Linked DNA regions of Homo sapiens. The protein of the gene in region 7 interacts with the protein of the main gene of each other region in a pairwise test. Each region holds a gene or a part of one and is shown on either strand. Other genes may lie near its edges.

The links.
Region 1: the proteins of MAL (region 7) and CPLX4 interact in binary tests that used the Homo sapiens proteins (3 or more experiments, as listed by UniProt).
Region 2: the proteins of MAL (region 7) and LSMEM1 interact in binary tests that used the Homo sapiens proteins (3 or more experiments, as listed by UniProt).
Region 3: the proteins of MAL (region 7) and BTK interact in binary tests that used the Homo sapiens proteins (3 or more experiments, as listed by UniProt).
Region 4: the proteins of MAL (region 7) and CLDN14 interact in binary tests that used the Homo sapiens proteins (3 or more experiments, as listed by UniProt).
Region 5: the proteins of MAL (region 7) and TMEM207 interact in binary tests that used the Homo sapiens proteins (3 or more experiments, as listed by UniProt).
Region 6: the proteins of MAL (region 7) and PTPRN interact in binary tests that used the Homo sapiens proteins (3 or more experiments, as listed by UniProt).

The regions. Positions count from the first base shown.
Region 1 is NC_000018.10:59,294,902-59,298,275, forward strand, and holds the end of CPLX4 (complexin-4), read right to left. Parts: intron 2,025-3,374; coding exon 1,797-2,024; 3' UTR 501-1,796; downstream 1-500.
Region 2 is NC_000007.14:112,479,620-112,483,790, forward strand, and holds the start of LSMEM1 (leucine-rich single-pass membrane protein 1), read left to right. Parts: upstream 1-1,371; 5' UTR 1,372-1,727; exon of another isoform or gene 1,728-4,171.
Region 3 is NC_000023.11:101,379,692-101,383,191, forward strand, and holds part of BTK (tyrosine-protein kinase BTK), read right to left. Parts: intron 1-3,500. UniProt on the Homo sapiens protein: Non-receptor tyrosine kinase indispensable for B lymphocyte development, differentiation and signaling. Binding of antigen to the B-cell antigen receptor (BCR) triggers signaling that ultimately leads to B-cell activation.
Region 4 is NC_000021.9:36,473,623-36,477,122, forward strand, and holds part of CLDN14 (claudin-14), read right to left. Parts: intron 1-3,500.
Region 5 is NC_000003.12:190,447,102-190,451,148, reverse strand, and holds the start of TMEM207 (transmembrane protein 207 precursor), read left to right. Parts: upstream 1-1,247; 5' UTR 1,248-1,339; coding exon 1,340-1,414; intron 1,415-3,321; coding exon 3,322-3,359; intron 3,360-4,047.
Region 6 is NC_000002.12:219,292,402-219,295,901, forward strand, and holds part of PTPRN (receptor-type tyrosine-protein phosphatase-like N isoform 1 precursor), read right to left. Parts: intron 2,741-3,500; coding exon 2,574-2,740; intron 1,800-2,573; exon of another isoform or gene 1,710-1,799; intron 1-1,709. UniProt on the Homo sapiens protein: Plays a role in vesicle-mediated secretory processes. Required for normal accumulation of secretory vesicles in hippocampus, pituitary and pancreatic islets.
Region 7 is NC_000002.12:95,046,208-95,049,707, reverse strand, and holds part of MAL (myelin and lymphocyte protein), read right to left. Parts: intron 3,194-3,500; exon of another isoform or gene 2,930-3,193; intron 2,433-2,929; exon of another isoform or gene 1,750-2,432; coding exon 1,582-1,749; intron 128-1,581; coding exon 2-127; intron 1-1. UniProt on the Homo sapiens protein: May be involved in vesicular trafficking from the Golgi apparatus to the cell membrane. Plays a role in the maintenance of the myelin sheath, and in axon-glia and glia-glia interactions.

The DNA.
Region 1 (3,374 bases), on a different chromosome or scaffold from region 7:
TTCATTGAGACAACGACCAAATTGCATTGGAGTAATGTTGGCAGTCAAGAGGAAGTGCCAATTTAGTGATTTCCTTAGCAGAACTGGCTGCATCTTTTACAAGAAAGCACATCTTCTTTGTCATCCTGAGGCTAGAGTGTGGAACAATTTGGCAGCTGTAGTATTTTATGTCATACAAAGTGTACAGATATCAGGCCACATACAGCACCTCTCACCCATCCATACTACCCACCTCACCAACTACAGGGCAGAGTCAGGCATTAAACTGAAAATAAATGTTATCTATTATATTGTAGTTTTTAAAAAAGTGAGTTTTTTAAAGTTTCTGCTATAAAACAAATCACAACTCACATGCCATTTCTGATAAAAGACAAGCACAGTTTTAAAATGTGCCCATGGCATCTGGGTTTGTGGACTAGAAGGCTAATCAGCCTCAATCATTGCACCAATGTTCTCCCAGGAATTTCCAAGACAGATTAAACTTTGCCAAGGACCATAGGTTTTGGACCTCTATTCATTTGTTTTATTTGCTTAATTTTATTACATGAAACTTTTTGTACAACACATTTGAGAACCCTGGGTTTAGAACAACTTAGACCCTAAGTTTTCGGTCTCAGTTTCCTTTTCCTTTGATAGATCTTTATTCACTGTATGAACAGAGTCACCAAAAAAAAAAAAAAAAATCAGTATTTTGTTTTGGTTTGGTGGGCTTTAGCTAAATAGCTCGAAGTGTTTCAGTGGTAATTGTCCTAAGTCTTTTGAATTATTCCTTTTGAAAGAGAGCAGATATTAGGGGGGAAAAATCAGTGTCTACCCTGAAAGCTTGTGGCACCAAATGACAGTGTGATTTACTGGAAGGTAGTCTAAAGGGGTGGGATGGGAAGGGACAGGAGAAGAAAAAAAAAAGAGAGATAGGGAGAGAAGGGGATGAAAGAGAGAGAGAGGTTGGGAGGAGACAGAGAGAGATTGATTTAACTTCTTAATGCTCTCTGTTAGTCTACCCACTTTGTTCCCATTGCTATCACCAAGTTCAGACAAGGAGAGTTAAGCTCAACTCAAAAAGAGCAGCCGTCTGCCTGGTTTCCCTCTGCCTCTAATTGTGCCTCCCTTGGTTCCATTCTTCACATGGCCACTAGAACGATGATCTCCATTGCAAAGGGCTAGTGAGGTCTATTCCCTGCCTCAATTCGTCATTGTTCACCACATCTGTGCTACCGCCACTTGGCTGAGAAGCATCCAAGGACCAAAGGATCCAAGCATACTTGATGAGTATCATTGACAAATTCAAGGATCCTAGAGGTGAGGGGTGGGGGTGGTGACCTTTGATTGCCCTGGAGTCTGTAGACTCAGCTCCCTGTGGGAAACCCGGCTCCCAGTAGACACCTTGACTCTCCACATTTCTCTCTGAAGGGACCTGGTGTCCTGCGAATAGTTGGACAGGGTGAGAACTTGGCCTCCAAGGAAGAAAGTTGGAGAGGAAATGCCCCTTGCTTTTGTTTCTTCCTGGCTCATCTCAAGGTCTTTAAGCAGATATGTGTTCTGCATCATCATTTACAACTGAAATTTTCCAGTTTATCTCATTTATAACTAAAAGGAAAGTAAGGTTCCCGCTGCAAGGTGTTAGCTAAATGCTCTGCCAGGAATATTTAGAACAACCAAATTATTGTCTGTCAATGGATCATCGTGGTTTTCCTAACTGTGTTCACTACATTAAAACATGTACTGCTTGAAACGTCCCACAAGAGAGTGGTCTTTTCCAAGGATGGCTGGTTCCCTCCCTCCACCCCTCCCACCCCTCACATCACGGAACACTTCTGCTCCGCTGTCTGCTTGATTTCAGTGAAGGTGGCCTGGGCTTTTTCTTTTATGGTATCCAAGTCCATGTTCTGGAGATTCTGTATCTGCCCAAGAATAGAATCTTTATCTTCTTCCTCTTCTTGATCTTCATCTACCATTTTCCGGAGATCTTCAGGTAAATCCACATCATCTCCAGCCATCTGGATTTGATTCTCATCCATTTCACTCTATGTGAAAAATAAATAGAGATAGATAAATAACTCTAAACTACTAACTCACTAACTAAATAAATTTTAAAAGCAGCAGGAAAAGGTCTTTAGAGAATACAGGAAGTGAGTGGCACTCTTGGCCTTGCAGCAGAGCCTGGTCCTGATGGCAGTTGTGGGGGCTTCTGTAGGGGGGTCCTTTCTTCATGGCACCTTGCGTCGATCAGAACCTTCCAGCATGGTGGTTCTCCAAGTGTGGTCTCTGGACAAGCAGCATTAGCATCATCTAGAGCCTGCTGGAACTACAAATTCTTGGGCCCCATCCCAGACCCACTGAATCAGGAACTCTGGAGATGGAGCCCAGCCATCTGGAATTTTTTTTTTTTTTTTGAGAGGGAGTCTTGCTCTGTTGCCCAGGCTGAAGTGCAGTATCTCGATCTCAGCTCACTGCAACCTCTGCCTCCTTGGTTCAAGCAATTCTCCTGCCTCAGTAAATCTCAGTAGCTGGGATTACAGGTGTGCACCACCACACTCAGCTGATTTTTTTGTATTTTTAGTAGAGACGGGGTTTCACCATGTTGGCCAGGCTGGTCTCGAACTCCTGACCTCAGGCGATCCAACCACCCCGGCCTCCCAAAGTGCTGAAATTACAGGTGTGAGCCACCACTCCCAACCCCATCTGGATTTTTAAGAATGTCTTTCTCTCTGTGATGCTGATACACACAAAAGCTGGGGCATCACACCCCAACTCTGCCTAAGGGCAGCTTTGCAAGTCTTGCAGATTCTATCAGCCCCATGCCAAGACCCACTCACCTGGTTGACCCCACTGTAGAGGATGAGGTCTCAGTTTATAGTAACTAGACAGTATGCATTAATTCACTCATCACACCTTAGTGGCAACTTTTTCTTAATCATGGCTCTTTTCCTCCCTTCCACTAGACAGGGAGCCCGTCATGGGCTCTTGTCAGATTCAACTTTCCACCGTTAGCACCTGGACTGGAGTCTAGCACACAGTACACATGTATTAAGTGAACCATCAAGGGCATGGCCGCCACTCAGCATACTGGCAGTCTAGCCTTCGGTGTTGCTGACGCTGTCACAAGCGCCTTGCACATTTCATTTTGTGATTTTAGGAGTGTCTGTTCTAGAATTTCTTAATGCATGCTGCCTGGTCTTTGAGATTCCTTTATTTTTTTTTTTTTTTAGACAGGGTCTCTCTCTTTCACCGAGGCTGGAGTGCAGTGGTGCAATCTGGGCTCATTGCAGCCTTGGCCTCCTGGGCTCAAGCAATCCTTCCACCTCAGCCTTCCAAGTAGCTGGGACTACAGGTATGCACCCCCATACTCAGCTGAGATTCTTTTACCACTTAGG
Region 2 (4,171 bases), on a different chromosome or scaffold from region 7:
GGGTTTACATCTCATCTCTGCCACTTATAATCAGTGTATCCCTCAACAATTAAATTCCTTAGTCTCCATTTCCTTCCTCCTTCAGGGGAAGTTAATATTCCACAAAGTTAGAAGTTACAGGAGAGGAAAAGTAGTAAACGCCCCAAAATGAGGCAGTTACTTCTATTATATCTTCAAAGGATACATGGCTCAAGGCAGATCAGGTAGTTGGGAGATTTCTTAAAAACAGCATAATAGCTAACATGAACATTTTCATTATTCAGAGAAATTTGACATAGCTTTTTAACGTATGTTTCTGAGAAAAGTTACTAGTTATATTGTCTTCCTCCAAGAATTAGTCTTTGGGTACAGATGAGGCTTGAAAAAATGACATTCCCTCTTAGACTAGGTAGTGTGAAGGGAAAAAAAAAATGACATTCCTCTTCCCCCAAAGCAGAGTGAGGTCCGTATGGGATATAGGTGTAAAGAAAATTTTGGGCCGGGCATGGTGGCTCAAGTTTGTAATCCCAGCACTTTGGGAGGCCGAGGTGGGTGGATCACTTGAGGTCAGGAGTTCAAGACTAGCCTGACCAACATGGTGAAACCCCATCTCTACTAAAAATAAAGAAATTAGCCAGCTATGGTGGCACATACCTGTAATCCCAGCTACTTGGGAGGCTGAGGCAGGAGAATCTGGAAGCAGGAAGGTCTCAGTAGGCTGGGATCATGCCACTGCGCTCCAGCCTGGGCAACACAGCAAGACTCTGTCTCAAAGAAAATTTTGTGGAACACCTATTTTCTCACTGACATGAAAAATGTTTCAAAGATGAATAATGTCCATCAAGCTATGGCAATGGAAGTGAGGATGATAAAGGATTGCACAGTTGTTCACAACCTCACTGTTAGTATCCTGCTGAGATAGTTGGTCTCCTCATCACTGTAGCATCTTTTATGTACAGCAGAGGGCAGAAGCTCCTTGGCATGTATGTGAGGGAACCACATATATGGAAGGCTGTTATTCCTGAGAAAGGAGGATGTGCAGACACTCACAGAACAAAGCCTTTGTAAAGGAAAGGCGGCCGATGAGATGGAGTGCTTCCTTCACCTGTGGTGGGTCTGTATCCATGAAATCGCCCACTCACAATCGCTTTTTGTAGCTACTGGAAGCACTAGGCGTCTGACCTGCCATCATCCTTGTTATGATGTCATAATCATATTCTGTCCGTGTTTATTGCAGTTCTCTGGTTTGTCTGGAGTGTTTGCAAGTCAGTCATCATAGTGGCAGCTTCCGCCTGCTACAGGATATTTATATATGGAAGCATACCATGGCAGGAGTGCTGGAAAGGTGGTGTCAGCTAACAGTTGCTTCAGCCAGATAAGGACGGTAACTTCAGTCCAATAAAAACCTCATCAGTTACCAACTAAATCAGGGCATGGTGTTTTTTTGTTGTTTTCTTTTTAAAGCATAGTTTTAGTAATATATTTACTAAAAACCTTAGACATTATGAAAAAAGTCAGGATTTGGAATCTTACACTGCTTGGCTAAATTGACACAATATAGACCAACAGTTTCATCCTGGGGCTTATGGGTCTCATAGGAGCACCCGTATGCTGAAGAAAGGCAAAGAGAGAACTACAGAATTTGTAGAAAAGTTTTGTTGTAGTTGCTTCTGAACAATTAGTTTTTGTTTGTTTGTTTTGTTTTGTTTTGTTTTTCTGGTAACCTAGCAGTCAAAGCTCACATTTTTGTAAGTAATTTGCATGCTATTACTCTACTGAGACTGAATTATGATTCTCGAGTCTGGGAAGTTTTTGTTGCATGTGCTCTGTGTTTTTCATTTTTGATAGAAATGATTTAGACTTGATTTTAAAAATTACTTCCTGAATGTGAAGAGGCATTGACTGGGAAATGAAATTAAAGAACAAATTACCATGACTCATTCAATAACACTGCTTATTAGCTTTGAATTATGCCCTATTATAACAATTCTGATTTTGTGGCAAGCAATACTGGTGTGAGTTATTTCTGTGGTTTGATACCAAGCACCTGCCTGGTTAAAAAATAAAGCACCAGGCAATTTTTCATAGACAATTATCTTTATTTGTTGGAATATTTATTTGTAAATAGTCAAAGAATTCTTAAATGACAAAAAATCAACTGTTAGCAGTGATCTAAACCAGAGGAAAATGAAATTACTTACATGTTTCCAGTCAAGGTATAAGAAAGGGTTCTGTTAAAGGGATGCTGCTTTAGCCAATCTTGGTGAATAAGCAAATTTGCACACTGGAGTTGAAAGGAGGGTCAAGTTAGTGTGATGAAGAATTGCTAGTAACACTGGCTTCTCCAGCCTTGCTGGTTGTTCCTAGATGCCCTCATTTGGAGATGCCAAAGATAGCAACTACTGGGTGTCAAACAGCCGTGGGGCCTGGTTTTAAGGCCATGTGATCTTGTATCCCTTTACTAGCAGCCTCATGAGTCATTTGCAAGTCATTTGCAGGCTCTTGGAGCCCTGGAACAGCACCCAACTCAGTTTTCTCTGCTAGTTCTTTATTTTTCCATTTGCGTGTTGCAGCTCATTAAAAAAATATTGGAATAGCATATATTTACATTGTGACTTCACTCTAAAGAAGACATTTTCTTTCAAAGCACGTCATGGCTCACTAGGTTGTTGTCTTAGTTTTTTTTGGAGTCACCTTTTGAGTAGATAGCAAGACCAGTAATATGGAGATTTTATTAGCTGTACTCTTAAAGTCAGTTTTTGTGGCCATGATTTTCTAGCTAGGTCTCTATTTTGTAAACATTGATTAAGCCTCAGTATGAAATTGAAGCAACAGCAGATACATTCCTGAAGGGGAAGCTAAGGCTCAAGGCTATTAAGTCAGAGATCCAAAAATGAACCATGCTTCAGTTACCACACCTAAAATAGAAGCTGTGTGCAGAACAGTGGTCCTGTGATGTGACACATAAAACTTTTTTTCCTGGTCACATATTACTGTTTGGTCAAATATTAGTATAAATGGATGATAAAATATGAAACACATCTAAAAGAATTGTTTTAAAATCTGTGACTATGCATGAGTGAATATTTTGGGGCCTTGGTTTTAACTGCAAAAGGATAAGATTTGACTGACCTCTAAGGCCCTTTTACTCTATTTGCTGCTGCTTTTTAATTTTTTTTAATTGTCATATCAAGTCATTTCCTTAGGAATGCTCTATGAAGTATATTTGGAATTCAGTAATGTCAATAAAGTGCTATGGTAGTATCTTATCTGAAAACTCAGGGAATTGTTTGTTCTTGTTAATTAAAATTTCAAGATAAGTGAAACACACTTTTTTAGTTTTAACCCTAAAAAAAATTTTTAGTCCATGACTTTTTGAGCTCACTTTCTTAGCTAGGGTTCTGGTAGCACATTTTTCACAAGTACCAGTAGTTTTAGGTATTACTGGGAAATTGTTTTTTTAATATTTTAGACTAAGTTTAAATTGCTCAGTAAGTGTCTGATACTTTTTTTCCCCACATCTTCTTTAGGTGTATACTTTTTTTTTTTTTTTATGAATTTGGTTTCTCCCAACTCTATATTGCTCTTCATTCTGTAGATGAGTTTTAAAGGAAATTTTTGCAACAACAGAAAGTAAACAGTGTGTTGTCAAATACACACAGGCACCATATTTATCGCATTGACTTTACTAGAGTCCAGATAGACATCACATGAGGATTTTTATCCTCAATCTTATTTCTGTTCATGTACTTATTATTAACTGCCTCCAATTCTTTTGAAAATGGTGAGATTTAAATCCTAAATAAACATTTCAGGTGTTCCATCTTAACATAAGTCACCAACTTCTAAACCTGGCACTGGGCATTTGAAGAATAGGATTCGTCCCTACTCTAAGGAGTTTTCAGTCTATCGGGAAATCAAAGATGTAAGCAAATAGATGCAATAAAATACTACAGATGTTCTGATAGAAGAATGTAAAGAATCCAGCAAAGGCAAAAGGAAAGACAGGTTGGTTCTCTCTTCCTAGGGGAAGTGATGTTTGAGCTGAGTCTTGAGGCAGGATTAGGAAGGGATATAGAAAAGAAAAGTAGCACAAAGCAAGACTCATTGAATGCTGAACAAAAGGCCCGATTCCAGCTCTGCTGCCAGGCAAATGTGTGATCCTGGGCATTTACCTCGCCGAGCTTCCATT
Region 3 (3,500 bases), on a different chromosome or scaffold from region 7:
TGGCTATCATCAAAGAGCAGTTGTGACAAACTCCTCTCCATTTTCTAGGAATGTTCAGCAAGAGAGGAAATGGTGGTAAATACAGGAGATAAGAGAGTATTCAAGATCCTAAGCTCTTTCCTCTGCAATATTCCTCCAGGCTGGTAAGGATGATCTGTCTCTGGTAACTGTCAACTATACTTTTTTTGCACTTGAGGACTCTTCTTAGTCTTGCCAGGTTTTCTTACATTTTCCCTCTTTAAATCATTCCCAAGGAGATTCTGTCTAACTAGTGAATTTCTAGAGTCACTTGTTGTTTCCTTTCCTGGATGTTTCATTGTTGATGGAATGAAAGCACAGTGTTTAGGTGGAACATCCACCCTTCTCTGTCCCTAGGGTTCTTATTGCTTACTGTGAATATAAAACTTTGATCAAATATACCTTCTATTTTTTTGAGACAGGGTCTCACTCTGTCACCCAGGATGGAGTGCAGTAGCAAGATCACCACTCACTGCAGCCTCCACCTCCTGGGCTCAAGCGATCCTCCTGCCTCAGCCTCTCAAGTAGCTGGGACTACAGGTGTGCACTACCACACCCAGCTAATTTTTAATTTTTTTGTAGAGACACGGGTCTCACTTTGTTGCCTAGGCTAGTCTCAAACTCCTGGATGCAAGTGATCTTCTTGTCTCAGCCTTCCAAAGTGTGGGGATTACAGGCATGAGCTGCTGCACCTGGCCTCAAATATACTTTGTTTTATATTATGAAATATTTCAAATAGAAAGTACAGGGACTATAACATTACAATCTTGGACTCACCGCTTAGCTCTACAAAATCCTAAAATTGTGCCATATTGCCTCACGTGTTAAGAAGTGAGATACAATCTATATAATCAAGACCCCTTTATGTACTCCAAAATCTTAGTCTTCTCCCTCCATAGAGATTACCAATATCTTGAGTTTGGTGTTTATCATTCCTAGGTATGTTTTCATATTATTATTACAGATGTAAGTATCTATAAAAGATATATAGTATTGGTTTACATGTTTAAAATTTACATATGGCCAGGTGCGGTAACTCAGGCCTGTAATCCCAGCACTTTGGGAGGCTGAGGCGGGTGGATGACAAGGTCAGGAGTTTGAGAGCAGCCAGCCTGACCAACATGGAGAAACCCTGTCTCTACTAAAAATACAAAAACTAGCTGGGCCAACGCTACTCTCCCAGCTACTCAGGAGGCTGAGGCGGGAGAATCCCTTGAACCCGGGAGGCAGAGGTTGCAGTGAGCCGAGATCTTGCCATTGCACTCCAGCCTGGGCAACAAGAGTGAAACTCGGTCGCGAAAAAAAAAAAAAAAAAAAAAGAAAATTTATATATATATATATGGTACACATTCTCCAGCAACTTGCTTTTTTCCCCTCAATATAATATGTTAGGATTTATTTATCTGGCTAGTTCTACTTCATATGTTTTAATTCATTTTTATATGCATAAAATATTCTATATGATGAATACATTCCAATATATTTATTCATTCTCCTGTTGATGGACATTTAGGTTGTTTGCTTTCAGTGATAAACAATGCTGCTGTGAACATTATTTTGATTTTTTGATCTCAGAATGAATTCTCAGTTACTTAGACAAACTGGCAAACCTAGGTCCAGCTTATCTTTTGGACTATGCAATTTGCATCATTCCTTCTTGCCTTTTCAGTCCTGTCTTCCTGATGCTTCACTATGAAATGTGGTAGAATTATCAACTATCTCTAGTGGGAGGTTAAATTTGGCCTACGGAAAATCTCTTCCCAGTCCCAAGAAGCATCCTTCACGTTCTAACTGAGATTTCAATTGAGAATTCCTTGGCCTTGGGACCAGAAGAGAACGTGTTAAGAACTGAAATACTATCTATATAATCAAGACCCCTTTATGTACTCCAAAATCTTAGTCTTCTCCCTCCTTAGAGATTACCAATATCTTGAATTTGGTGTTTATCATTCCTAGGTACGTTTTCATATTATCATTACAGATGTAAATATCTATAAAAGATATACAGTATTGGTTTACATGTTTAAAATTTACATATGGCCACGTGTGGTAGCTCATGCCTGTAATCCCAGCACTTTGGGAGGCTGAGGCGGCTGGATGGCAAGGTCAGGAGTTTGAGAGCAGCCAGCCTGACCAACATGGAGAAACCCTGTCTCTACTAAAAATACAAAAATTAGCCTGGCGTGGTGGCGCGCACCTGTAATCCCAGTTACTCAGGAGGCTGAGGCAGGAGAATTGCTTGAACCCAGGAGGCGGAGGTTGCAGTGAGCCGAGATCGTGCCACTGCACTCCAGCCTGGGTGACAGAGTCAGACTCCGTCTCAAAAAAAAAAAAAAAGAAAAAAGAAAAAAAAATCATACCCACAGCAACAAAGCAACCTTTAATCTTGTTAAATTCCCAAGATGCTTTTGTTCGGGCCCCAGTGAAACCCAATTATTTTATGATAAGCTTCATAGTCAAGGCTACAGGGGACCAAATTTGTGATGAAGGCATCAAGCCAAACTCAATTTTCGAAAGCTGCATGCTGACCAGGGAAACTCTCCTGCTGTAGTCATTTACAGGAGGCCTTAGGGCTCTCTGGTTCTTCCACAGCAGTTCATGTTTTATTTATTTATTTATTTATTTATTTATTTTTGAGACAGAGTCTCGCTCTGTCATCCAGGCTTCGGTACAGTAGCGCAATCTTGGCTCACTGCAATCGCTACCTCCCAGTTTCAAGCAATTCTCTTGCCTCAGCCTCCTGAGTAGCTTGGACTACAGCCGCACACCATGACACCTGCCTCGGCCTCCCAAAATGCTGGGATTACAGGCTTGAGCCACCGCGCCTGGCCTTATGTTTTTAGCATTTTACATTTTTCTTCTGTGGTTTTGGAAACTTCTAGGTCTCTGTGATTCATCATCTCTTTTTGTCTTGCATTAGCGACAATATATTCTGGCCAACTGATGATGGAAGGAGAGCCAGAGAGCCAATCTGCAAGTTTATAGTCAGTGCCAGATCAGATCAGTGGTAATACTTTCAATATTCTCCCTCTGCTCTGAGGGTGACTGCTGGGGTGTCTGTCTTTCACTCTGGACTTGTGTGCCCTTTTGGCCTTCTTTTTCAACCTAGTTTTTGTTTTCCTTGGCTTAAACATTTTATTTATTTTTTCCATCGATATCAAAATAACACACGCAGCTGGGTGCAGTGGGGTGCACCTGTAGTCCCAGCTACTCAGGAGGCTGATATTGGAGGATTGCTTGAGCCCAAGAGTTCAAGGTCAGCCTGAGAAACATAGGGAGACCCCCATCTCAAAATAAAACAAAATATAGTAAAATAAAACATGCTTATTGTAGAAAATATGTCAAGTACAGGGATATAAAAAAGAAAAAATCATTCATAAACTCATCCAGAGGCATTAATATATCGGCATATTCCTTCCATTTTTTTCTGTGTGTGTTTCTTATAATATTTGAGATCATATTGCACATTCAGTTAATTTACC
Region 4 (3,500 bases), on a different chromosome or scaffold from region 7:
TTCAGGGAGGGACTGAACTGGAGAAGTCTGTTTGTGTCACCACCGCATGGAGATGGGATTAAAATATGGGATGGAGTCTCTTAGGAGGGAACGTTAGATAGAGAGGAGCAGGGGCTCCAGGGCTGATTCTAGGAACCCTCCAACATCAGGGGAGGGATGAGGATAGAGGTAGGAAGAGGAGCCAGCCACGGGCTGTAGGAATGGGCGATAGTGAACGGTCAACCCAGAGGAGACTGGTGAGGGAGGACAGAGCTCCATGTTGGAGAGAGCAATCTACTCTGTCAAGTCAAGTAATCTGATAAATCAAGTCATCTGAGCACTGAGAAGTGGTCACTGGATTAGCAACATGAAGGAAATTGGAGACCTTGATAAGCTCAGTTTCGGCGGAGTTGATTGGAGTGGGTTCAAGAGAGAATAGGGACAGAGGGACAGGAGGGAATGAGCCCAGAGAATTCTTTCAGGAACTTGGACCCTCCAGGGGAATCAGGAAATGAGGCAACAGTTTTAGGATGGGTTCCAGGGCCCATAGACCTCAGGATATCTGTCAACTCAGCCAGGAAAAAAAGTGACATCTTCTATTTCATCTACCTCTCACTGACAATTAGCATTTCCTTCAATCCTGAATGTAGGCAGCCACCTACAGCAATATGACCAGTGCCTGTGCCTTAATCAGCAATAGAGACCATGATATTTTGCATCGCATTACAGGCGTTGCAGATACCTGCAAAGGACATTTATCACTCTAACAATTTCAAATGATACTTATAAGATGCTTGCTAGACCTCATGATGTAATGCATTAATAAGGAAGGTCGTCCATTACTAGGAACAGAATTGCACTAAAATATTTTGATAACTATGTTTTACTATAATTCACTTCCTTTATAATCCTGCATGTTATGTGTTATATTACACATTTAAAAGTATTGTGCTGAGAAGAATACATCAGCTTCGCCAGATTGCCAAAGGAATCCCAGGCAATCCCCATCCCGCCACCCAGAACAACACCGATAACAAAAAACTAAACCAAAAGAGTTAGAAACCTCTGCCAGTGGGATGTGTAGGCAAGAGAGGACCCTTGTTTTGCTGTTGTTTTGAAGATGAGAGGCATGGAAGCATGTTTGCATGCCTGAGGAAATGGTTCAGCGAGGAGGGAAACATCTGTAGGGGCAGTAGGGATCCTGTGTGCACATGGAGAGACCAGCTCTGACCAGCATGCAGAGAACTCACTCCAGAACGGGAGGGGAGGCGGGAGCAGGAGGCTGGGGGAGATGTCAGTGGGCAATAACGCATGTTCTGAGTTTGCTCCAAGTTTCTCAGGGAAATAAGAAGCAACATGATGTCTTGAGACAGGAGATGGGGGAGGAGGTGCGGGAGGCTTGAGCACAGAGGAGGAGACCATGGTCATCCAGGAGAATGACCGCAGGCCTGGACCAAGTCAAGGGGTCAAGTGCTAGTCAGTGCCGGGTGCAGGTGGGGCAAGTGGTCCTGCGGGTACCATAGACTATCACGCCGGACAGCCTTTCCCAGCACCATCAACTGCACTGCGAGGGTCCCAAGTGGACAAAGGGCTGGACTGGACCTGGTGGGGATTTTCCTAGGGGAAAATGATGAAGGCAGACAGCCAAGGGAAATATGCGTGCACACAAAGGTGTGAACATCATGGCGGGCCGTGGCGTCAAAGCTGGGATGGAGGGACATTGAGGACAATAGAGAAGGTCTGTTCATCGTGGAGAAGTCACCTGGATCAGTGGCTCTCCACCCTCCTGCTGTAGCCGCAGCCCTTGGAGAGCTTTAAAAAGATCCGGATGCCCTGGCTACCTCCAGAGATTCTGATTCGCTGACTGGGGTGGGGTCCATGCATGGGAATTTTCGAGCTCCTCTCCCCCACCCGGTGATTCTGATGTGCAGGCAGGTTTGAGAACCAATGGCTTATTTATTTCATTAAAAATTATTTTTCACTCTGTTGGCCAGGCTGGAGTGCAGTGGCACAATCACGGCTCCCTGCGGCCTTGACCTCCTGAGCTCAAGTGATCCTCCCGCCTCAGCCTTCCGAGTAGCTGGAACTTCAGGTGTGAGCCACTGCACCCAGCCCCGCTGGCTTCATTGATTTAACTTTTTTTATTTTATTTTATTTTATTTTTTTGAGACAGAGTCTTGCTCTGTCACCCAGGCTGGAGCACAGTAGGATTACAGGTGCACGCCACCACACCCAGCTAATTTTTGTATTTTTAGTAGAGACGGGGTTTCACTCCGTCTAGGCTGGTCTCAAACTCCCGACTTCAAATGATCTGCCCTCCTCGGCATCCCAAAGTGCTGGGATTACAGGCATGAGCCACCACCGTACCTGGCCTGATGTAACTTTTAAAGGTCCTATTAGGAGCTTTAAAGAGTCCAAAACGGTTTAACAGAGAGTCATAGTTCAGATGTCTGTTCTGCTGGGCCTGCCTGCTGAGTGCAGGCTCTCTTTGGGATCTCCTGAGATGGAGACAGGTGTCTCTGGCCTGTCCCTGGAATATTGTCTCACCTACCCATAAGGCTAGGCTCTCCCACTCCCTTCGCTTGAAATCCTCTTCTCCAGCTACAATCTTACCTTCCCTCCTGTGGCCCTGCACCCTTGCCTTCTGCCATCTAGAAAAAGTGGTTGGGGGGGTGGTTCTTTATTTATCTTGCTGCCTTCTGGCTCTTACCTTCCCAGAGCCCCACGGAAGCCTGTTCTTACAACCTGGGTCCTCTTCCTGGGACCCCAGCCCACTGTGGGCACTGAGCCTCCCTCATTGTTAATCTTGGCCAAGAAGTTACCCCACAGGCATTTATATTTTAATGGATGACTATTTTTTTTTTTTTTTGAGTCAGAGTCTCACTTTGTCACCCAGGCCGGAGCGCGGTGGTGCGATCTCAGCTCACTGCAACCTCCGCCTCCCAGGTTCAAGTGATTCTCCTGCCTCAGCCTCCTGAGTAGCTGGGATTACAGGCGCCTGCTACCATGTCTGGCTAATTTTTGTATTTTTAGTAGAGACCAGGTTTCACCATGTTGGTCAGGCTGGTCTCGAACTCCTGACCTCATGATCCACCCGCCTTGGACTCCCAAAGTGCTGGGATTGTAGGCGTGAGCCACTGCCCTCGGCCCATGGATGACCTTTGAAAACAAATCTCCTCCTGGCCCAGGCCCCAAAGCATACACTCACAGTGGTGAGAATGATTGGGTGAGTCTTCCAGAAAAGCCTGTGATAGTTTGATATAAAGACATTTAGAATTAATTGGGTCAGGTATGAGATTTCAGATTGCAGAAATCCTTGTGTAAGCAAAGGCCTTGCAGCTAAAGTAGTGCATGGCAGGTGTGGCTTAGCCTTTAGACATACACACAGTGGCCAGATTGTGCATTTGCTCTGAAGAGTACCAGGCCCTGTAGGTTACCTTTGCCTGCTCTCAGGACTTGCTAGATAATTTGCAGAACCCAGTGCAAAATGAAAATACAGAACCCCTTGTTCAGAAATTATT
Region 5 (4,047 bases), on a different chromosome or scaffold from region 7:
CTATTTTTGCATACAAATGTGACATGATGTACACAAAGTTCTGTGATTTTTGTTCCTTTTATTCAATAACTATTACAGACCTCTCTATATCAGCATCTGTGATCTGTCTCCACCTTTTAAAACAGATTCCTAGTATTCTGTTGAATTTATATAACCATTTTGTACTTAGTCTGTCACATTTTCATGAATATTTGCTGTTTCCAATATTTTGTTAACACCAACAATGCTTCGATGAACATCATTGCATATAGTAATTTGTGCCATGTGTAAGGGGTACATTCATGTATCTTGCAAGGAGAATTCTTGCTCTAAGGGCATATTTATTTTTTATGTTGATGTATATTGCCTACTTGTTTTCCAAATAAGCTGTACAGTTTTCCCAACCGTATATGAGAGTATTTGTTTCCCAGTATTTATCCCTCTTCCCTATATTATCAATTTTTTGAACTTGCCAATCTGATTATAATTCTAAGGTATGTTTATCTAATTATGACTGAGGTTAAGCATCTTAACAATCATTTGTTACATTCTTTCCACATAACCATTTAGCTCTTCATTATACCCTGAAAGATATCCATCTTCTCTCCACTAGTTTCAAATGGAAGCTTAAATAAATTTGTTTATTTGAGTCTAAACTCTCCATTTCTAAACTCTCTACTCTTTTACATTTACCTTATTATTTACACATATCAGTACTAATTTTTGTAAAATGCATAGATTAAGACATCTTAATGTACAATAGGTTAGTGCCTTTTCTTTTTCTCAGAATTTCCCTAGATATTCTTGCTTTATTTTTCAGTGGTAGTGATGGAGTTGTTTCATAAAATAAACATTGAAATATACCTTGTTTAAAAGAGGGGTATTATCACAATAAAACAAGGAAAGCTTTATGCCTAAGTTTGGGTTAGACCTGGAACTGAAAATGGTGTGTAGGAGAACAAAGAGTACCAACAAAGGGAAGAAAATTGAATAAATGTTCCAAATATGAAATACTATTAGAAACCCAGAAGTTCCCTGGAATAAAACATGCACTTGAATGTGGAAAGTTATTAAGTAGCCAGCTAGCTCTGTAGGTCAGCATTTATAACCCCTACTTTTAAAGGCCTTGACAAACAGTGCTAAAGTTCTCACCTTAAACTTAAATTCCTTGGGCTCTTAGTACCTGTAAACATGTACCCAACATTCCTTCCCCTAGCATGCACTTTACGAGTCACAAGGAGCCATTATTAATGCATGTCCTGGTAGGAAGCATAACTTATAGAGAAGCTAGTAAGTTCTGAGAAAGAAGGAAATAAACACAGGCACCAAACCACTATCCTAAGTTGACTGTCCTTTAAATATGTCAAGATCCAGACTTTTCAGTGTCACCTCAGCGATCTCAACGATAGGGATCTTGTGTTTGCCGCTATTCCAGGTAACTATCTCTCTTTCTGGGTTAAGGTTTTCAGAGGTACTCTGAGGTACTCTGAGGACTTGATTTGCTATAGATTTATATGTGAGCAACTTAACTGCTTCTACATTTAAAAGATTTCCTTCAAGCTTTACTAGCATCTTATGATTTCTTGTATTCACTGGTCAGAGGGACAAAACAAAATGTCCAAGGCATTAGTCTTATTTCTCCTTCAATTAGTTCTATTGCTACTGAAATAACGTGATTGCAAATTTAACCTTTGTTTAACTTTGCTATGCTGTAATTTTTTAAATTCAAAATGCTATTGACACAGAACAAAATGCTATGGCTAGATTAATTTAAGACATGTTTACTATTGCCTACAACCATACTTGATGCTTGACAGTTTTTCAATGCTGACTGATGTAGACAGAACCATTTTAGGATTTATTTCAGTTCCTCTGCTCCAGCATCCCCTTCTGACTAACACGTGCATCTCTAGATCTGTGTGACTTCAATGCAAGGTATCTGAAAGATTTAGATCTAAAGTAAATTATAGCTTTCCTTACCTCTTCATAATAACTGGAAGTTTGACAGCTAATGTGTTGGCAGTGAGGTGCTAATAATTTAATACTGTGTACTATTGCTAGGGTACAACACACAGAAAAAACACGGAAGTGACTTGAAAGTGAAATACTGGTTTTATTTGTTTATCTGTTAAGCTGGATCCCAAACGATTTCATCTACTCATAAATAAACTTTCTTTATGGACAAAATGTGAATGTTCATTTTCCTTTCACTTAGTATGCAAATCTATTTGCAGCATTCTAGCAAAAAAGAATGCAACTCATTTTCTGTGCTTATAAATTGTTCATTACCATGCTCTCTGATGGCCAATTCATGGCTCCATCTGCAACTCCACAAATCTCTTTGCCCAGATAAACTTGGTGGAGTAAATACAAGGTGCTGAAGAAGATGCTTTTGGGATTAAGGGGGGAAAAGACACATCTCACACAGAACTCCCAAGTCTATCACTTTAAATTTTGTAACTTCTTACTTGTACTTTTATTTGCGTGTTATAGTCCAGGAAAATAAATACTTCAACTGACTTCATCAACTAAGTGTTCAGAGCTACACATAAATGCCGTTTAAAGACTTTCTCCTTGTACAAGGAAGGAGTCCTGGTTCAAAGGGTCAAGCAAGCAAATAGATAATAAGATCTTTAGAAAGAAGTGCCTTTTTCCTTGTGATTTAGTATATGAGATGTTGTAACCTATGACACTCAGTGCAGATAACTAAGAGCATTATTTTAGAATGCTTATAGTATTGGACTTTTCAAACAAAGCAACAAAGATGATTACTTTTTTTCTCTTCTCTGATAAAGAGAAGACTGTAAATCTCAACTGGAATGTCATGTGATCTTAAATGGACCTTACCCTTAGAGCAGGTTAAAGTCGCCCTTTCATGAATATATATTTAATGCCCATTAATGCTAATAGGCTTGACTTCTGTTTCCATGTATGTACTTGGAACTTGTTTTTTTTTGCGTGAAAATAATACTCACTAATAATGAACCTCTGACCTCTAGCTACAACATGAAAACAAAAAATGCAAAGTGCACAAAAGCTCTTTAGAGCAAGCAAAATCTGCATATAGAAAAAACAAAAATTGTCGTAAAATCCATTTATATTGGTATGTAGAAATGGAATCTGGTTCACAATATATATCTTCTGCCACTGCTGAGCTTAAGAATCCACCCAGAGATTTTTTCAATTAAAATTCTGTGTACCAACAATAAACTCTGCTATAGAGCTTTTAATTAAAAAAGCAAACGAAATGATATAAACCCACATTGTCTCTAGGCGCTGCTTGTATTAAAGGATTAGACTGATGAGATGTTTGGATTTTATTGTTCTAAACATGTGTTTCAGTTGGTGCTCTCGGACCTACCATGCGAAGAAGATGAAATGTAAGTAAACAGCGAAAAACTCCATGTTTTTATTTCGCATTTAAAAAATTCAAAGTATAAAAAAGGCTCAAGCCATTAGAAAAAGCCCAGTTGAGTTTCAAATGATCATTATAATCAGAAGAAAAGTAAATGGTTTGTAAATGCAGATGGCTCCATTTTTTTTTCTGAAAACAGGAAAGATAATTTTCATTACGATCAGCTTTGTTAAATAAATAAGAGGCCTAGTTGATTTCTAGATATTTTTGCACACTGAATTTATCTTCCTTAAGGTTTCAAGGGTACTTTAAGTTCATAAAAGAATCATGATGTCATCTATGGCTTCATCCACACTCAAAAATCACAGTGACCAAGGGAGGCAGTTTTCTGTATAACTCAGTTTAAAATACAAGCAAACTGACCAAAATTCTAACCTGTACTGTGTGTCTATTTCAAAGTGCTTGTGATATGAATTATGTGAACAATTGACTCAATTTTTTCACTTTTTGTGCGATAGACTTAATGGTTCTCAGAATTCTATTCAGGAGATGAAGAGAAGGTGCCATTAATAATGATACTGATAATTAATATCTGTAATTCATTGTGATTTAGTATCAGAAAAGCACTTCCACCCAGCACTATCTTCTCCTGCTTGCAGCCCTTACTGTTAGCAGCTGTTTTCAGTCTTCATTGCCTGTTACACTCAAAGCCA
Region 6 (3,500 bases), about 120 Mb from region 7:
GATATCCCTGCAAGCCAGAACCAGGGAAGACCTTCTTAGGGGTTGTCAGATTGAAGTTTGGAACTTCACAGTCCTTCAGCTATAGGACCAGGTGACTTAGAATGGCTTCATAGGAGTCCACATGGTTTTCTAGCTCATTGGCTGTTACGTCAGAGGGCTAGGGTAGAAGAGTAATCACAATAGTTGTTTTTGCTCATTTAATAATGATAATAGGCAGCATCTAGAATTAACGGAGCCCTTGCTATGTATCAGGCACTTACACTAGATTTTACATACTTTATCAAATCTTGCAACAGCCCTCTAAAGCAGGGGTCCCCAATCCCTGGGCCATGGACCAGTGTCAGTCTATGGCCTGTTGGGAACCGAGCCGCATAGCAGGAGGCAAGCGAACATTACCACCTGAGCTCCGCCTCCTGTTAGATCAGCCATTGCAATAGATTCTCACAGAAGTGCGAACCCTATCGTGACCTGCACATGTGAGGGATCTAGGTTGTGAGCTCCTTATGAGAATCTAATGCCTGATGATCTGAGGGGGAACAGTTTCATCCTCAAACCACCCCCTCTCCCAGCCGTGGAAAAATTGTCTTCCACAAAACCGGTCCCTTGTGCCAAAAAGGTTGGGAACCTCTGCTCTAAAGTATGTGTAATCATCCCCATCTCACAGGTAGCGGAATGGAGGGAAGCCAAGGAACTTACTCAGGGTCACTTTCTTAGGGTCTCTTTTATTAATTTGTTTTCCTTCTAGGGGGGCTTGACCAAACTGCATTTATTTATTTATTTATTTATTTATTTATTTTGAGAGGGAGTCTGGCTCTGTTGCCCAAGTGGCAGTACAGTGGCACGGTCTCGTCTCACTGCAACTGCTGCCTCCCAGGTTTAAGAGATTCTCCTGCCTCAGCCTCCCGAGTAGCTGGGAGTACAGGCGCTCGCCACCCTGCCTGGCTAATTTTTGTATTTTTGGCAGAACAGGGTTTGACCATGTTGGCCAGTCTGGTCTTGAACTCCTGATCTCAAGTGATCCACCCACCTCGGCCTCCCAAAGTGCTGGGATTACAGGTGTGAACCACCGCGCCCGGCCCCGAACTGCATTTCTTAAGCAACAGTTTATTTGTTCTGGATGTCTAATGCCAACTGAGTTTACATAATTCCAGCCTAAAGCAATCTTTTAGCTTATCTGTGCAGCTTTAAAACAGATCCATGCACTAGTTCTACCAGGATTTTTTAAATATGGAAAAAAGGAAATAGCTCTGATACCCTGGCACTGCTTTCAAGACGCCTGTGTCTCAGGCCTCAGGGACCCCAGTTAGAAACTGCTGTCCTGAGGTTCAGAAACTATACCCATGTCCCCACCCCCAGCTCTGCTCCTCTGTCCAGTACCTAGAGACATCAGGCCAGCTTGGCAAGGGACAGAGAACCAGGAGAAGGGCGCAGTGTGGGTGGGCCCCTGCCCTTGGTAGTGGGCTTCCCAAGTACCTGTCTGGGGCTAGGAAAAGCAGGGGACGCTGGAGGGCTGACCTGTCTTGGTGTCAGTGTTGGAAAAGGGTAAGTCCCTCAGGTAGCCCCTGTCTAGTCCCCACCTGCTCCACTGAGCCCCCCAGAATCCAGAGATCCTCCCACACTCCTTTCGACAGTCTTTGCCTCTTCCCTGTACCCCTTGCTCCCAGCTCGGGGTGGTCCCCGGGCCACATGTCCTGTCTGTCCATGCAGCAGCCACACCTGCCAATGATCACTTTTGTGACTATGCAACTGGAGTGAGAATACTAGCTGCAGATCACAAAAATGACACTGGCAGCTGTGAGGGAGAGAGAGAAAGAGGGAAGAAGGGAGAGGGAAGGACAGAGAGAGGAAAGACAGGCAGCGGGAGGGAGAGGGAGAGACGGACAGAGCAGCAGAGAGAAACTGGCAGACAGGGGAAGGAGGTGGAGAAAAACAGGGGAGAGGGCAGAGAGAAAGGAAGAGAAGCGCGGAGAGGGAGAAATGGAGAGAGAGGGAAAGGGTGAGGCAGAGACAGAGTGAGAGAGAGATGGGGAGAGAGAAGAGGAAGAAAGAGGAAAGGAAAAAGAATGAAAGACACAGAAAAAAGAGGCGAAGAGACGGAGAGGGATGAAGGAGGGACGGAGAGGGATGAAGGAGGGGAGACGGGCAGGCGGGAGTGAGAGACGGAGGGGGCAGCAAGGCAGCGCAGTGCAGGGCCTGGAGACAGCGGGGCAGGAGGGAACTGGAAGGAGAAAGGAAGCAGGGGTCCTGGAGAGGGAGGGGAGACAGAAAGCAGAGGGCCCTCTGGAGGAAGCAGGTGGAGGAGAAGGAGCCAGTCCCGGGAGCGTGAGAGGGAGGGAGCAGAGCAGCAGCGGCCGGCGCGGAGCTGGCCCACGCGGGTGGTGGAGGCTCGGGGAAGGGCACAGCCGGAGCCTCAGGCCTGCTTTTAGGGGTGGGAGCGTGGGGTCTGGAGCGGGCGGCCAGAAGTCAGAGGCCGAGGCTCCAGGCCCGACCCGGGGCTCCAGGCCGAGCGGCGGGCGGACCCCGGCTCCGCCCCCGCCCATGCGGTCCCTCCAGGCGGGGGCGCCCGCGCTCACCTGCGGAAGTCCAGCAGGGGCCGCGTGGAGGCCGGTGTGCCCTCTGCCGGCCAGCTGAGGAAGTGGAACTGCGTGAGCGTGCGCGTCTCCTGGGTCTGCACGTTCTTCAGGTAGAAGCTCCGCACCAGAAAGTCCTCGCACCAGATGTGCTCCGACACCAGGTTCACCTGCCCGGCAGGGGCCCAGGCCTGAGCGCCGCGGGCTGCCCCAGTCCCCGCGTTGCGCGCGCTCTCCTCGCGACCTTCTCGGTCTCTCCAACCACCGCCCGGCCTCCCAGGCCGGTTCAAATTCTAAGTTCCAGCGGTCCCAGGAACCCTGGCTGCCTGTCACTTATCTACTGCTCAGGACCACTAGTAGCTTTTCCACCCAGACACAGCTATTGTGAGCCTCTCGAGGTCGGAGTTTCTCCTCCCTCTTCCTCGCAGGGTCTACCAGAGTATCGGTGCTACACGTGCCATAAACTTGGATGAAATTCTGTAGTATTCTTACTGGATTTTTTTCGTTAACCACCAGCAGGACCAATGAAAGGCTTTTTAAAAAAACCGTCATGTGCTTATTTGGTGGGGAAAAAATTACTATTCAGGCTCATCTGGTGATGAGAAGCTTCTGCTGTGTTCTTAAGGTTTTTTTGTCTTAGTGGGGACTCACGTTCTCCCATTTGTCTGAAATATTTCTCTTTCCCCTGCTTGGCCTCTGCCCAGTTCCCCCTCCTTCTCCACCCCTCCACCTAGTCTCTCTCCTAATGAAAAAGTTTGTTTCTCTTTTACATTAGTAACGTATGTAACGGGTGGTATGTCTTTCTTTGCTTTGGCCACCAGGAAACTCAGAGCTAAATTAGGTTCAATTAACGTAGGTCTTAATCTCAGTCTTTGGGTATCCTTATCTTCCCTGTCTAATATACACTTAGCTGTTAGCTTCTTACCTCGG
Region 7 (3,500 bases):
CCACGGCAGCAATGTTTTCATGGTAGTGCCTGTAGGTGAAGCCGTCTTGCATCGTGATGGTGGCCAGGGCCTCCAGGACTGAGGCGCTGAGGTAAAAGAGGGCAGCGGTGCAGTGGTAGGCTGCGTCCTATGGGGCAGACGGGGTGTCAGAGGGATGGGGAGAGAGAGACGGGGCCCAGATGCAGAGCTGAGGTCCCCTCCACCCCCGCCCCTTGCCTCTCCCCCCACTTCCTTTGAATCCCACCCCTCCCAACCTTGTCACGGAGGTCCCATGCCTGCCCTGCTGTGCTGAGTCTCACTTCACTGCTGTGGGGCCAGAGTGAGCACTTTGCTGGGGATGGGACACTGGTCTCCCCTGAGGAAGGGTCAAGGGAGAGGTGGAGGAAGGGCCAGCAGCTTGGGGTGTCCCAGGGAAAAGCTGGTCCTGGATCTGAGAAGTGTCGTGCATGGCCACAGTCCAGGTTGGGTGTGGCCTCGCTGACCAGTGCAGGGTGAGGGAGGACCATGCTGTTTCTTTCGTTTTGTTTTGTTTTGTTTTGTTTTGTTTCATTGCTTATTTTTGGCCCCTGGTATATTTAAAAGCAAAAAAGGGCTGGGCGTGGTGGCTCATGACTGTAATCCTAGAGCTTTGGGAGATTGGTGCAGGAGGATCTCTTGAGGCCAGGACTTGAGACCAGCCTGGGAAACATAGTTAGATCCCCATTTCTACACAAAACAATACATCTTAGCTGGGTGTGGTGGCACATGCCTGTAGTCCCAGCTACTCAGGAGGCTGTGGCAGGACGATCACTTGAGCCTGGGAGGTTGAGGCTGCAGTGAGATGAGATTGCGCCACTGCACTCCAGCCTGGGTGACAGAATGAGACCCCCAACTCAAAATAAAGTAATAAATGAAAGCAAAAAGGTACTAAAACAGGGTTTTGTGTAGTTGTGATTTGGAAGTGATTTCAAAAGTCTAAGTAGCAGAGCTTTTGAGAGTGACAGCCTTGGCCAAATGGCCCCACCACCCCTACAGCAGGTAACAGGCAAGTGTCCTACATGTAAAAGTTACCTTTTCATGGGTCTCAAAGCAGAATTTATACAGAATAATGACCAAAGGCCGCTTCTGTTTCCCAGTGCTCTCTGGCAGCCCTGCTTGGAAGGCAGTGGCTGAGGAGCTGGACAGTAAGCATGGCCTGACCCTCAGAGCCAGGGCCAATTTCTGGAGCCCAACACCTTGGTCGGCCTCTGGGGCCCTGCTGCCTTGAGGTGAAAACAGCCCTTGCAGGTGATGGGAGGGGCAGGCAGGCACCTGGCGGGTACAGGTGGTGTGGGGGCTGGGCAGCTGGTTATCCATGGAAAGGCAGTCATGCAGGAGAACACAGAACAGGTCCAGTGAGGGTTGGCAGCGGCGACCTTGCCTCTGCCCCTGCCTCTCCTGATTCTGCTGCCAGGAGCCCTGGGCAGGCTCAGCCTTGGAACATGGTGGGGTGACATCTACGGAGAAGTCTCACCTGGCACTGGAAAAGCCCATCCTACTGGGCCAGGGACCAGTACTTCCTGCGCCCCCCTACAACCAGCAGCCACCCTGGGCTGGACTCACCAAGGTGACCCAGGAAGTCTCTCCACCGTGGGCTCCAATTATGTACAGGATGATCAAGGTGGTGGTGGCCACGAAGCAGAACACAGACACGAACATCACCCAGCCCTGGACCAGGGGCCAGGGCACCAGGGAGGAGGCCACCAGGATCCACACCAGGCCCCCGAAGATCTGCGGGGGAGGAGGAGGGGTGAGTTTTGGCCTAGAGGAGAGCCCCAGCCCAGGAAGGGCCCCCGACCAGCGGTCACATGGGGTGACTGGAGTGCAAAAACACAGGAAGCAGGCAAAGAGAACAGGGCAGGCATTTTCCTCTGCAAAAATGCATCTTTAGTCCCCCCAGGGCCCTGTGCTGGATCTCAATCCCAATCCCCGGCACGCTTGCCCTGATTAACTTTTTAAAACTTTTTTTTCTTGAGACAGAGTCTTGCTCTGTCACCCAGGCGTGAGTACAGTGGCGTGTGGCTCACTGCAACCTCTGCCTCCTGGGTTCAAGTGATTCTCATGCCTCAGCTTCCTGAGTAGCTGGGATTACAGGTGCATGCCACCATGCCCAGCTAATTTTTCTATTTTTGGTAGAGACGGGGTTTCACCATGTTGGCCAGGCTGGTCTTGAACTCCTGACCTCAGGTGATCTGCCCTCCTCAGCCTCCCAAAGGGTTGGGATTACAGGCGTGAGCCACTGCACCTGGCCTGAGTAACTTTTTAAATATGGGTTTAATTTTTTTATTTAACAAACACTTATATCAGACCTACATTCCAGGCACTATCCTAAGCACTTTACAAATAATAACTCAGTGATTCTCACAGTAACCCTCTGAGCAATGCTGACCTGTTTGCCAGATGAGGAAACTGAGGTAGGTGGAAGTTAAGTAATTCATCATTCTGAGAAAGGATTTATGCCATTTGGTATTGTCATGAGAAGAGCTGCTATTTCTTCTGATATTCTAGCCCTCCTACTTGCTTTGATATTAAAATGTCCTTTCCTTTATGCAATGGTAGTGACCAGCAGATCTTTTTGGTCTTTATTTGGCAAAACAAATTAACCACACTGTCAGTAGTCCCCTGCCCTGCCCTTCCTTTCTTTCTCTCTCTCTCTTTCCTTCATTTCTTCTTCCCTCCCTCCCTCTCCTTCCTTCCTTCTTTTTCTTTCTTTCTTTCTTCTTTCTTTCTTTCTTTTTTCTCTTTCTTTCTTTCTCTTTCTCTCTTTCTTTCTCTCTCTTTCTCTCTCTCTCTTTCTTTTCTCTCTCTCTCTCCCTTTCTCTTTCTCTCTCTCTCTCCCTTTCTCTTTCTCTCTCTTTCTTTCTCTTGCTCATTATTTCTTTTTCTGGATTCAACTGTTTATATTCCCAAGTCCAGGAAGTGTTCTGATGATCAGATTTGGAGTTGGAATGGAGTAACCAAGGACAGCCTTGTCTCTTTGGATGGCTGAGGATGGGCATGAGGAAAGTACAGTCCCGTGGTTATCCAGAATACACCCCAGTTGATGTCGCCAGGGTCAGTGAGCCCCATACAGTCAAAGAGGAGCAGACATGGGGGCCAGTAGCACCCCTCAGTAGCCCAGCCCCGCTCCTCGCCGTGGATGGACACATACAAACCCGCTCCCCACCGCGGATGGGTACGTACAAACTCCGTTCCTCACTGTGGACAGGCGTGTACAAACCCCAGCGGGGACTTTCTGCACTTCTCTTTCCCTTCTCCTCATCTCCCCCAGCGCCACCCCCACCCAGTAAGAATCAGCTCAGCCTCATCCACATGTTCCCCACTTGGATGAGGACTGGGCTCGAAGCACTCCAGGCCTATGTGGAGATTCCTTTGCAGCCAAAAGTCTCCAAGGTACTACAGAAGTGTCTGGGGGGCTGAGGATGGGGCTGCCCTCCCAGGCCTATGTCCCCTGTGGTTTGAATTCACATAGCACCTTGACC